2 separate regions of the Homo sapiens genome follow, and region 1 is linked to region 2. Evidence: fine-mapped expression QTL. A gene starts in region 2. The other region holds a variant in brackets. All regions are shown on one strand. Distances are from middle to middle. Region 1 overlaps PER3 (period circadian regulator 3). Region 2 holds the start of PER3 (period circadian regulator 3).

Region 1 (5,376 bases), 48 kb before region 2:
AACACATAATTAGAAAAGACCTGTCCGACTGATTTGCCAAACTGGCTCTCATTCTTCAGACTCTTGCCTCGGACAGTCCTCCTCCTCAGCCAGCCCAACCATCATTTCCGGGAAACTTCCTCCTCCCTGTGGACAGCCTCCTGGTTCTTTGGTCTTCCTGAGATCTCTTTTTCCATTCCTAATGAGCTATCACTCTCAAGGCTACACACATTGTCCTTTATCATCACCCATAACCGCTCCATCTCCAAAATCATCAACATCTCAGCTTCACTCTCTCATGGGCTTGTTCAATTATTTCAACTATAAATGTGTTAATAACGTCTTAGTCTTCCTGTAGTGGAGTCCTCAGTTCATCATTCAGTAACACACCTTGCAATACCTTAGACTTCTTTTTCCCTCTGACTTTTCATAACTGTCAAAATGCCAACTCCAATAAAGCCAATTATTGACTTTGTTCTTACCTAAACCCAAGTCGCCAAATACATACAGAAAGTCACATATAACAGGGTACAGTGTTTCTACAATAAACGCATCATCACCAACCTCAAATGCACCATCAAAATACCTGGGAATCCTGCTACAGTTCTCTGGTCATGCACTAACCTACCCCCAGCAATGACTATTTTCAACCTCTCTATTTCCTGCCTCAATCTCACCTATTTTTTAAGGAAAAAAGAAGCCATCAGAAAGCAAATTAATCACCTTTATGATACCAAACATACACAATTAATGATATATGTACCCCCTCCTCACCTTCCTCCTGCCACAACACAGAAACTGTTCATCCCAAGGACCATCCCTTTATGGCTGATATGAAGCCTTATGGATCATTCCTTTCCTATCTTGCATTTGACCCTTCTAGAACCTTCTCACTGACTTTGAAGGAATTAAAAACACAAAACAAAACTATTTGTTTAATTTTTTTTAAAAAACTAAGTATGTAAATAAAAAAGTAATAAAAAAATTTTCCTCATTAAAAAATATCTTTAGGTTGGGCGTGGTGGCTCACACCTGTAATCCTGGCACTTTGGGAGGCCAAGATGAGAGGACTGCTTGAGGCCAGGAGTTTGAAACCAGCCTGGGCAACACAGTGAGGTAGGTTCCATCTCCATAAAAATAAAAAATTAGCTGAGTGTGGTGGTACATGCCTGTAGTCCTAGCTACTCAGGAGGCTAAGGTTGGAGGATTGCTTGAGCCCAGGAGTTTGAGGCTACAGTGAGCTATGATTGCATCAGTGCACTCTAGCCTGGGTAACAGAGTGACACCTTGTGTCAAAACAACAACAACAACAACAAAACACTCACACAAAACAACTTTAAGAGGTTGTTACTGTTTAAAGCAAAAATAATAACAATGTTATTGTGGGTTTTTTTACACGTTAAAATGTATGACAAAAATAGCACAAAAGACAAAGGGGACATGGAAGTACTCCGTCTTAAGGTTCTAATATATAAAGTGATACAATAGGCATAATATTTGAAGGTAAACTGTGATAAGTAAAAGATGTGCATTGTACAACCTAGAGCAGGCTGGGCGTGGTGGCTCACACCTGTAATGCCAGCACTTTGGGAGGCCAAGGCGGGCGGATCGCCTGAGGTCAGGAGTTTGAGTTCAGTCTGGCTGACATGGTGAAACTCCGTCTATACTAAAAATACAAAAAATTAGGCGTGGTGGTGCACGCCTGTAGTACCAGCTACTTGGGAGGTAGAGGCAGGAGAATTGCTTGAACCTAGGAGGTGGAGGGTGCAGTGAGCCAAGATGGCACCACTGCACTCCAGCCTGGGTGACAGAGTGAGACTCAGTCTCAAAGAAAAAAATAAGATAAAATAAAAATAAATAAAAAGTTAATCCTAGAGCAAAAACAAAAAAAAAGTTATGCTTAGAAGCCAATACACAATTAACCCGAAAGGAGGAGGGTAGGAGGAAAAAAAGAAAGGGCAGATGAGACAAACAGAAAATTAGTAGCAAGATGAAAGATTTAACTTAAACCTAACCATATCAATATTCACATTAAATGTAAATAATCTAAGCAAGCATTGCAGTTAAAAGGCTGAGACTGTCACATGAATAAAAAGCAATACCCAACTATATGGTGGTTACGAGAAACTTACTTTAAATATAAAGACACAGATAAGTTGAAAGTAAAAAGATGAAAAAAATTTACCATGTAAACACTAACCAAATAAAGCTGGACTGGATACACTGATATCAGACAAAGCAGACTTCAAAGCAAGACATATTTCAGGATAAAGAGAGCAATTCATCAAGAGGATATAATAATCTCAAGTGTATATGCACCTAATAAAAGAGCTTCAAAATACATGAAGCAAAAACTCACTGCACTATAAGAAAAAATAGAGAAATTCACATTTATAGCTGGACATATAAACCATATCATAATAACTTATAAAACAGATAGAAAATCAGTTAGAAAAGGTTGGATCAACATTATCAACCAACTTGATCTAATTTACATTTACAGAACACATGACTCAACAACAGCAGAAAGCATATTCTTTTCAAATGCACATGAAACATTTATCATGATGGACCAAATTCCAGATCATTACACAATGTCTTGGTAAATTTAAAAAATACAAAAGAATGTTCTCTGACTGCATTTAAATTAGAAATAAAATAAAAATATCTAAAAAAAATCTCCAAATATTAGGAAATTAAGCCTTTCTAAAACAACCAAAAGATCAAAGAAGAAAATACAAGTGAAATTAGAAATATTTTAGACTGGCCAGGTACACTGGCATATGCCTGCAGTTCCAGCTACTCAGGAAGCTGAGGCCAGAGGATTGTTGAACCCAGAAGTTTGAGGGTGCAGTGAGCTGGGATCATGCCACTGCACTCCAGCCTGGGCAACAGAGTGAGACCTTGGTTCCAAAAAAAAAAAAAAAAAATTTGAGGGATGCAATGGTTAGAGCATTCAATAGCATTAAATGTTTATATTGGGGGGGAAAAATCTCAATTCAAAGATCTAACAAGTAAGCTTCTACCTTAAGAAATAAGAAAAAAAAA[AT/T]AAAATCCAAAGTAAAGAGAAAAGAAGTAATAAAAATTAGAGCATAGGCTGGACACGGTGGATGATGCTTGTAATCCCAGCAATTTGGAAGGCCAAGGCGGGCGAATCATGAGATCAGGAGTTCAAGACCAGCCTGGCCAACATGGTGAAACCCCGTCTCTACTAAAAATACAAAAAATCAACTGGGTGTGGTGGCGGGCACCCGTAATCCCAGCTACTCGGGAGGCTAAGGCAGGAGAATCGCTTGATCCTGGGAGGTGGAGGTTGCAGTAAGCCAATATCGTGCCACTGCACTCCAGCCCAGGTGACAGTGCCAGACTCTGTCCCAGGGAAAAAAAAAAAAAAAAAAAAAGAGCATAAATCAATAAAATAAAAAACCAAAAAACAATAGGAAAAAAAACCCCAATGAGATCCAAAGTTCTTTGAAAAGTTATTAAAATTGATAAACATACAGTCAGATTGATCAGGAAAAATATTAATACCAGCAATAAGAGGGGTACATTACTATAAAACCTACAGACATTAAAAGGAAAAGGGAATATTAAAAACTTTATGCCAATATATTCAACAAATTAGATAAAATAGATACATTTCTTGAAAGATACAAATTACCAAAGATCACTAAGAAACTGATAACCTGATTAGACCCATATATATTAAAATATTTAAATTTGTTGTTAAAATCCTCCTCACCAAGAAAACTCCAGGCCCAGAAAGATTCACTGGTAAAGTCTACCAAACTTACAAAGAAAAAATAATATCAGTTCAACACAAACTCTTCCAGAAAACAGAATAGCAAAGAATAGTTCCTAGCTCATTTTTTGAGGCCAGAATTACTCTGATACCAAAACCAGACAAAGACATTACAAGTAAAGAAAGTAAATGGACCAATATTCTGCACAGAGATGCAATAATGCGTAACAAAATATTAGGAAGATAATCCAACAACATATAAAAAAGGATAAAAGAGCATGACCAAATGCAAGGTTAATTTATTATCAGAAAACTGATGTAATTCACCATATTAATAGAATAAGGGAGGAAAACCACATGATTATCTCAACAGACGCAGAAAGGGCAACTCAGTGGAGCAGCAATAGAAGTGAACTTCCTCAATCTGATAAGGGCATTCAAGGAAAACTTATACTTAACATCGTACTTAATGGTGAAACACTGACTGCTTTCCCCTTAAGACTGTGAACCAGGCAAGTGTCTATTTTCCTATTTCTATTAAACACTTCACTGTGGGTCCTAGCCAGTTCAATGAGGCAAGACAAATAAATAAAGACATACAGACGGAAAAAAAGAAGTAAAATTATATTTGCAGATAATAAAGACTATGTAGAAAAGTCCTGCAGAATCTAAAAAGAGCTACTAAAACTAATCAATGAGTTTAGCAAGACTGCAAAATACAAGTTAAAAATACACAATTTGATTAAATTTCTATATGCTAACAACAAACAATTGCAAATTGAAAATTTAAAATGCCATTTTCAGTAGCATCAACAATTATAAAATCCTTAGAGATAAATTTAGCAAAATATATGTAAGGGTTGTAGGCTGAAAACTATAAAACCCTGCTGAGAAGAATTAAAGACCTACATAGAAAAATCGTACTTGTGGATCAAAACACTCAATATCATCAGGAAGATAATTATTCACGTATTGATCATCTATAGATTCAACACAATTTCATTCCAAACACCACGAGACTTTTTTGTAGAAACTGAGAAATGGAGTCTATAATTTATATGGACAAAGGACCTAGAATATTCAAAATCATTTTGAAAAGAAGAATTAAGTTGAAGGACTTACTTCACCACGCTTCAAGACTTACTTGAAAGTTACATTACTTAAGAGTGTGGTATTGGCCTAAAGCTAGCCATACAGATCAGTGGAACAGAAAAGAGAGTCCAGAAATACACCCACACGTGTATGGTCAAGTTATTTTCAACAAAGGCATCACGGCAATTTAACGGGGGAAAGATTAATCCTTTGAACAAACGGCAGGAACAGTTAGATATCCCAATGTAAAGAAAGTATATTGACCCTTCCTCATACCATACACAAAACTCAAAATGGATCACAGATCTAAGCTATAAATGCTATTGAGCGTGCATCTCAACAGCATCATGCTAACTGAAAGAATCCGAATACGAAAGACAGCATACTGTCTGATTCTATACATAAATCATAGGAAAAGCAAAACTAAAGTGACAGAAAGCAAACCAGTGGCTGCCAGGAGACCAAGGGTCAGGGCAGAGATGGACTGGTGAGGGTCACAGAACTGTTTGGGGTGACAGAAATGTTCTATATGGTGATTGTGGTAGCGCTTACACTAAGGTACA
Region 2 (5,343 bases):
TTCTATGCTTTAAGACACACTGAAGATTCACCTTCTTCAAGAAGCTGTCCTTGACAAACCTCATTACATAAGCATCACTGCTCTAATTTTTTCCATTACACATAAATGAAACTTATTTATAATCAGCAGTTTGTGTTTGCTAGCATTGGCATACTTTCCTCTCTAGCTTTATTTTAAATATCTTAAAAGACAAATATTTTCTTAAGCTATTTTTAAAAATCTCCATAGCACCTCCTACAGTACTATGTACACACCAGTCCATAAAATAAGCACTGTTATAATACTAGGGATTGCGCACGTTCCACTATTACAAAATCTTTAAGTAACAATTATGTTACTTAAAATAAGTAATCTCCACCGTATCAACCAAACATGAAGATTACTCTGTCAAACAAGAAGAGAGATTAAAAAAGATATACTAAAGGTCTCTTCCAAAATTTTAGGAAAAATGACAGCATCTCAACTCACCTGTTCTATAACATCCAGTTGTTACAACTTGAAGTAGTAGGTATTGGAACTAAGAATGATATAAATAGAAATTAACAATTCGGAGATTAGAATAAGGTGCAGGAAATTACTCTGCAGTGTAATTTTTGTTTTCTCTTAATTCAAGAGAGCTTGGGAATGCTAAGGAGCTAGAAGCACCTCATAACCAAAGTCACTGAGCTGCACAGCACACAGAACGGGCTGCTTCTGCTTTTAGATGTTTTCTCTGGCAAGGGCGGAGAAGCTACACCATGCCTCTTTAGCAGTTCCTCCTTTGCTTCTCTCAAATTGTGGTTGCTGAAACGTTGTTATCCTTCTTAAAAGCCTACATCTAGAGCAGGCCCTTAGGAAAAGTCACCCAGGTTGATATGGCAAAATGCATGAATTCTTACTGTGTTTTTGGAAGTGTGTTCTGAAGCGATAGTGGCCAGCTCCTCAAGACTGTACATGCTCACATCTGCCTGAGGTGCTCCATTCTGACTGAGAATCTGGAAAAACTCACTGTTTGCTAAGAAACACAGGGAGATAAACAGGTAGTCCAGTGACAACAGTATCTTTAGGAAACCATTTCATCACTATCAAGCTGGATTATTTTTTTCGGATGAGAACACCTCAGTGCATTTTTCTCAAAAACAGATCATTTTCTGCTTTTACCTAAAATACTGATAGTTGTGCAAACTTAAGATTTGATTTTATGAATTCTGCATGTTCTGGATCACAGGAAGCAAGATACATTTAAGGTACTAACTAAAAATTTCAGATGCATACACAATTTTTTTGCGGGGGGAGCAGAAACAGTACTCTGTCATTCAGGAACATATCATATATGAAGCACTGAGGTTTGTGCTAAAGAGAATATGGCTTTAATGAAATCCCTGGAAATGTCAGAGAGAAAAAGTGTTTACAATGGTTCATTTTTAGTTTGGTAAATTCCTGATATATCATTACTGCATTTTTATCATTATTATTTTTTAGAGACAGAGTCTCGCTCTGTCACCCAGGCGGGAGTGCAGTGGCGTGATCTCGGCTCACTGCAAGCTCCGCCTCCCGGGTTCACGCCGTTCTCCTGTCTCAGCCTCCCGAATAGCTGGACTACAGGCGCCCGCCACCACACCCGGCTAATTTTTTGTATTTTTAGTAGAGACGGGGTTTCACCGTATTAGCCAGGATGGTCTCGATCTCCTGACCTCGTGATCTGCCCGCCTCGGCCTCCCAAAGTGCTGGGATTACAGGCGTGAGGCACCGCGCCCAGCCTCATTACTGCATTTTGAAAGTATGTGTACGGCATGTAAAGGTAACTATTTCGTGGAATGCATTTTTTTCCCATAACTTCCATAGAAGACAATATTTCTTTAAAAGGTCAGCCTTCAAAATGTGCTTATGCTAAACTCTACTCTCTTGCAACACATGAGCAAAACATTGCATAGGTATTATACACTATTATACAGATAAAGTTTTCCTGGTCTTTCACATGTGAACAATTAAGACACGAATGGAATCGGTGTAGATTTGCTCATCTTCCACAAAGCACCAGAAAAAGCTCAAATTATTTGTCTGACTGAGACCCCACTGACCACTCCTCTGGCTGCTTGTATGAGTCCTGGTGCATTCGTAGGATGAAATTTCTCTCCGGCTTGTTTACCTTGAACGCTGTGGACACAGCGGAGAGCATAGTTGAGGGCATCTAGAGTGCTTGGTTTATTGCGTCTCTCCGAGGGGAAGTATTTTTTCATTTCTTGGACAACCATGATAAGTTCTTCAGAAACTCTGTTTCGATCTTGCTGTTCACTGGAAGATAAAAAAAAATTACAACTTCATCCTCTGAAGACAACAGCATCTTGCGGCTTAGGGAACACAAACTGCAAGCCAGGTAAGTTTCTAAGTGCTCTACCGGCATCAGTCCACAGGGTGGTGACCCCTCTTCCTCTAGGTGGGGAACTCGAGGCAAAGCAACTGGTGAATGACAAACATTCTCCACTTACTTTCCCTTAATCCACTTGAGCCCCAACTCAGCTAACTTTTGTAACCACTTTTCCCTCCTGATACTCTTCGGTAATTTTCTTCAGTGTCACGGATCACTTCATCCTACATTGCCCGAGTCTCCCCTTTACACTTTCCCCTGGGCTTGAAAACAAAAGAATAAAAAGATTTAGGTCCCCCTTTCCCTGCTCCAGGGAAGGACAACGAACGCATGGGGCCCTCGGCCTGAAGCCAGCGCGTCACCTGTGGCTGCTGTCCGCCAATTTCCTCTGCAGATGGAACTCGGGGCTCCACCGCTCCCCCGATTCTTCGCCCAGGGCCTCGTCCTTAGCCCCCCGTCTCCCGGGGCCAGGAGCTTCCCCGCGGGGCATCTCGAGGTCTCCGCGGGGCTCCACGTCGTGCTGGGACGGCCCGCAGCCTGCTTCTCGCTCACTTTGCAGTCAGTGACAGACACCGGTTTCTCACTCCGGTCCCCGCCATGGCGTTAGTGAGAACAGGCGGCCACCACGAGCCAGGGGGTCACGCTCATCTCCGAGGAGCTTTTCCCTCCAACATTTTCAAAACCCGGAGCTCGCTCGACTTTCAGGACTCCGGCCTAGGGGGAGGAGACAAGGGTGACAAGGGACAAATGGAACAGACAGTCCGACGCCAGCGGCCCGGCTGGCTGGGGCGCCCCGACCGCGCGGTCCTCACCCCTGCCCCAACTTTCCCGCGCGCCGAGGGATGGGGCCCGGGGAGGCGGGTGGCTCGGAAGCGCCACGCTCCGGGGGCCCCCAGTACCGAGGGCAGGGCTCGCGGGGCTCCTCTGCCGCGCGCGAGTGCCCAGAACTCCCGCCCGGCCGCCCAGAACTCCCGCCCGGCCGCGCACTCACCTGCTGCCCCCGCCCTTGGCCCCGCGCACAGCCGCTCGCCCCCGGGGCCGCCCTCGCGCAGTCTCGAGGCTCGCCGCGTGCCGGTCAGCAGCCGGCGCCGCGCCCCCTGCCGCCGCGTGACCGGTCCCGCCCCCGGGCCGTGCGATTGGTCGTCGGGGCCGACTCCGCAGGCCTCCATTGGCCCTGGGGCGGGGCGCGAGCCGGTGCGCCCGGGTTATATAAGCCAGGGCGAGGGGGCGGGGCCCCCGGGGCGCGTTACATAACGCGCGGGCTCGGGCGGAGGCCGGCGCTCGGCCAATCCCAGCAGGCCGGCGGGCGGGCAGGGGACGGGGTGGCCCTCAGCGGCCTCAGGCCTGTGCCGCGCGACTGGAGTGTCCGGCCCCCTGGCACGGCGCCGGGGCGGAGCCGCTGAAGCCAGCGCAGAAATGATAGGGCCAGGAAGCTGCCAGCCACGTGGGGGCGGGACCCGGGCTCTGTGGGGCGGGGCGGGTCCGGCCCAACCTCCACGTGAGAGGCGGGCGGGGAAGGAGAGGGGAGTGAGAGGCGGGGGCAGAGAGGGGCGAGAGGCGGAGTCGGGGGGCTTGAGTCGGGGTCAGGGGGAGGCTGGAAATGGGGACGGATGGGGGCGAGAGGCGGGGACGGGGGGGCGGATGGGAGCGGGGGTGCCGAGAGACGTGGGGAGCGAGAGGCAGGGGCGGGGGGGCGACGGTGTCGAGGGCGGGGGCATTAGAGGGAGGGAGAGGCGGGGACTGGGGGCGAGCAGGGGCGGCTCAGGCCAGCGCTCTGGGGTCGAGTCCTGGAGTTTGTAGGTGGCTCCCGGCTGCCCGAGCGGGTGTGGGGAGGAGCCCAGGGTGGGGCGGGCTGCCGGCAGCGGTCCTCATCGTGCTTTGGCCGTCTTTCTGGGTTCCCACGGTTTTCACCGCCCGTGACCTACCGAGCCCACCCCAACCGCCCCCATCCTCCGCTAACTCTTTCGGTGAGTGGGGTGGACTTGGAGGAACCGGGCCATAAAGCAGCCCTGGTAAAAAGCCCACCCGATTTTTAGAAACAGATTTTTTATTTTTTGAGACAGGGTTTTGCTCTGTTGTCCAGGCTGGATGGAGTGCAGTGGCGCGATTTTGGCTCACTGCAACCTCCGTCTTCTGGGCTCAAGCCAGTTTCCTGCTTCAGCCTCCCGAGTAGCTGGAACTACAGGTGCAGCCACCACACCTGGCTAATTTTTGTGTTTTTGGTAAAGATGGTCTGTGTTAGCCAGGCTGTTCTCAAACTCCTAAGCCCCAGTGATCTGCTGGCCTCGGTCTCCCAAAATGTTGGGATTACTGGCGTGAGCCACTGCACCGGCCCAGAAACAGAATTTTGACGGTGGAACTTAAAACACTTCCCTGCACTTCCTAAAATTAGATTCATTTGGCAACTGGAGGAAGACAAACGTAAAAGACACTCTGTTTCAGAAAAGAAGTTGTAGAGCCCTTTAAAAAAAATGTCTGAAAGCTCAGTTTAGTATCTCAACATGTTAGAAATGAAAGGTACAGTGCAGAGTGCCGCCCCTCTTCGCTGCCTGGTACAGAAAAAATATTCAGTATTTGTTGGATGGATGAAATTGTATGTAAAGGAAGAGGGGAAAAGTGAGGTGAGTGTTCATGTTAGGTATTGAATAAACCACCTTATATCTTCCAAGCGATACTCTAGGTTGGCTTGCTCTCCTCCGAAGCTGGGTTTTGTCAAACTGCATTCGTTCAGCAAGCATTTATTGCGTGCAGATCTGGGTAGGGACGCTTGGAATCCCAGCGGATAGAACAGTGGCCCAAAGTCCCTGCCACCCAGGGAGTTGACGTTTTATTGAGAAAGCCATACAAACAACCCCATAAACAAGTTCATAAAGCCTAAAGCGATGTGTAGAAAACAAACTACTGGAAGGAAGAGTAACTGGGAGAAAGGTGGAGTGGGGAGGCCAGAGCCTGCTTAGTCAGATCAGCAGGGCAGGCCTCTGGGAAGGCGGATTTCA

Evidence for each region. PIP is the estimated chance that this variant, and not a neighbour inherited with it, causes the effect.
Region 1: its variant is the best candidate, but not a certain one, in a credible set for the expression of PER3 in whole blood (INTERVAL, PIP 0.61).

Annotation. Positions count from the first base shown.
Region 1 is chr1:7,830,371-7,835,746 of GRCh38, reverse strand. All of the region lies in intron 19 of PER3 (period circadian regulator 3), which reads right to left. Among named protein-coding and RNA genes, the nearest start is that of UTS2, 20 kb to the left of the region's middle. The variant AT/T (reference allele first, on the strand shown) is at 3,028.
Region 2 is chr1:7,782,372-7,787,714 of GRCh38, reverse strand. It overlaps PER3 (period circadian regulator 3), which reads right to left and starts at 3,424. Exons shown (of 22, transcript NM_001377275.1): 1 at 3,339-3,424; 2 at 2,710-3,061; 3 at 2,129-2,274; 4 at 879-994. The coding sequence starts at 2,837. RefSeq lists a silencer at 3,349-3,958.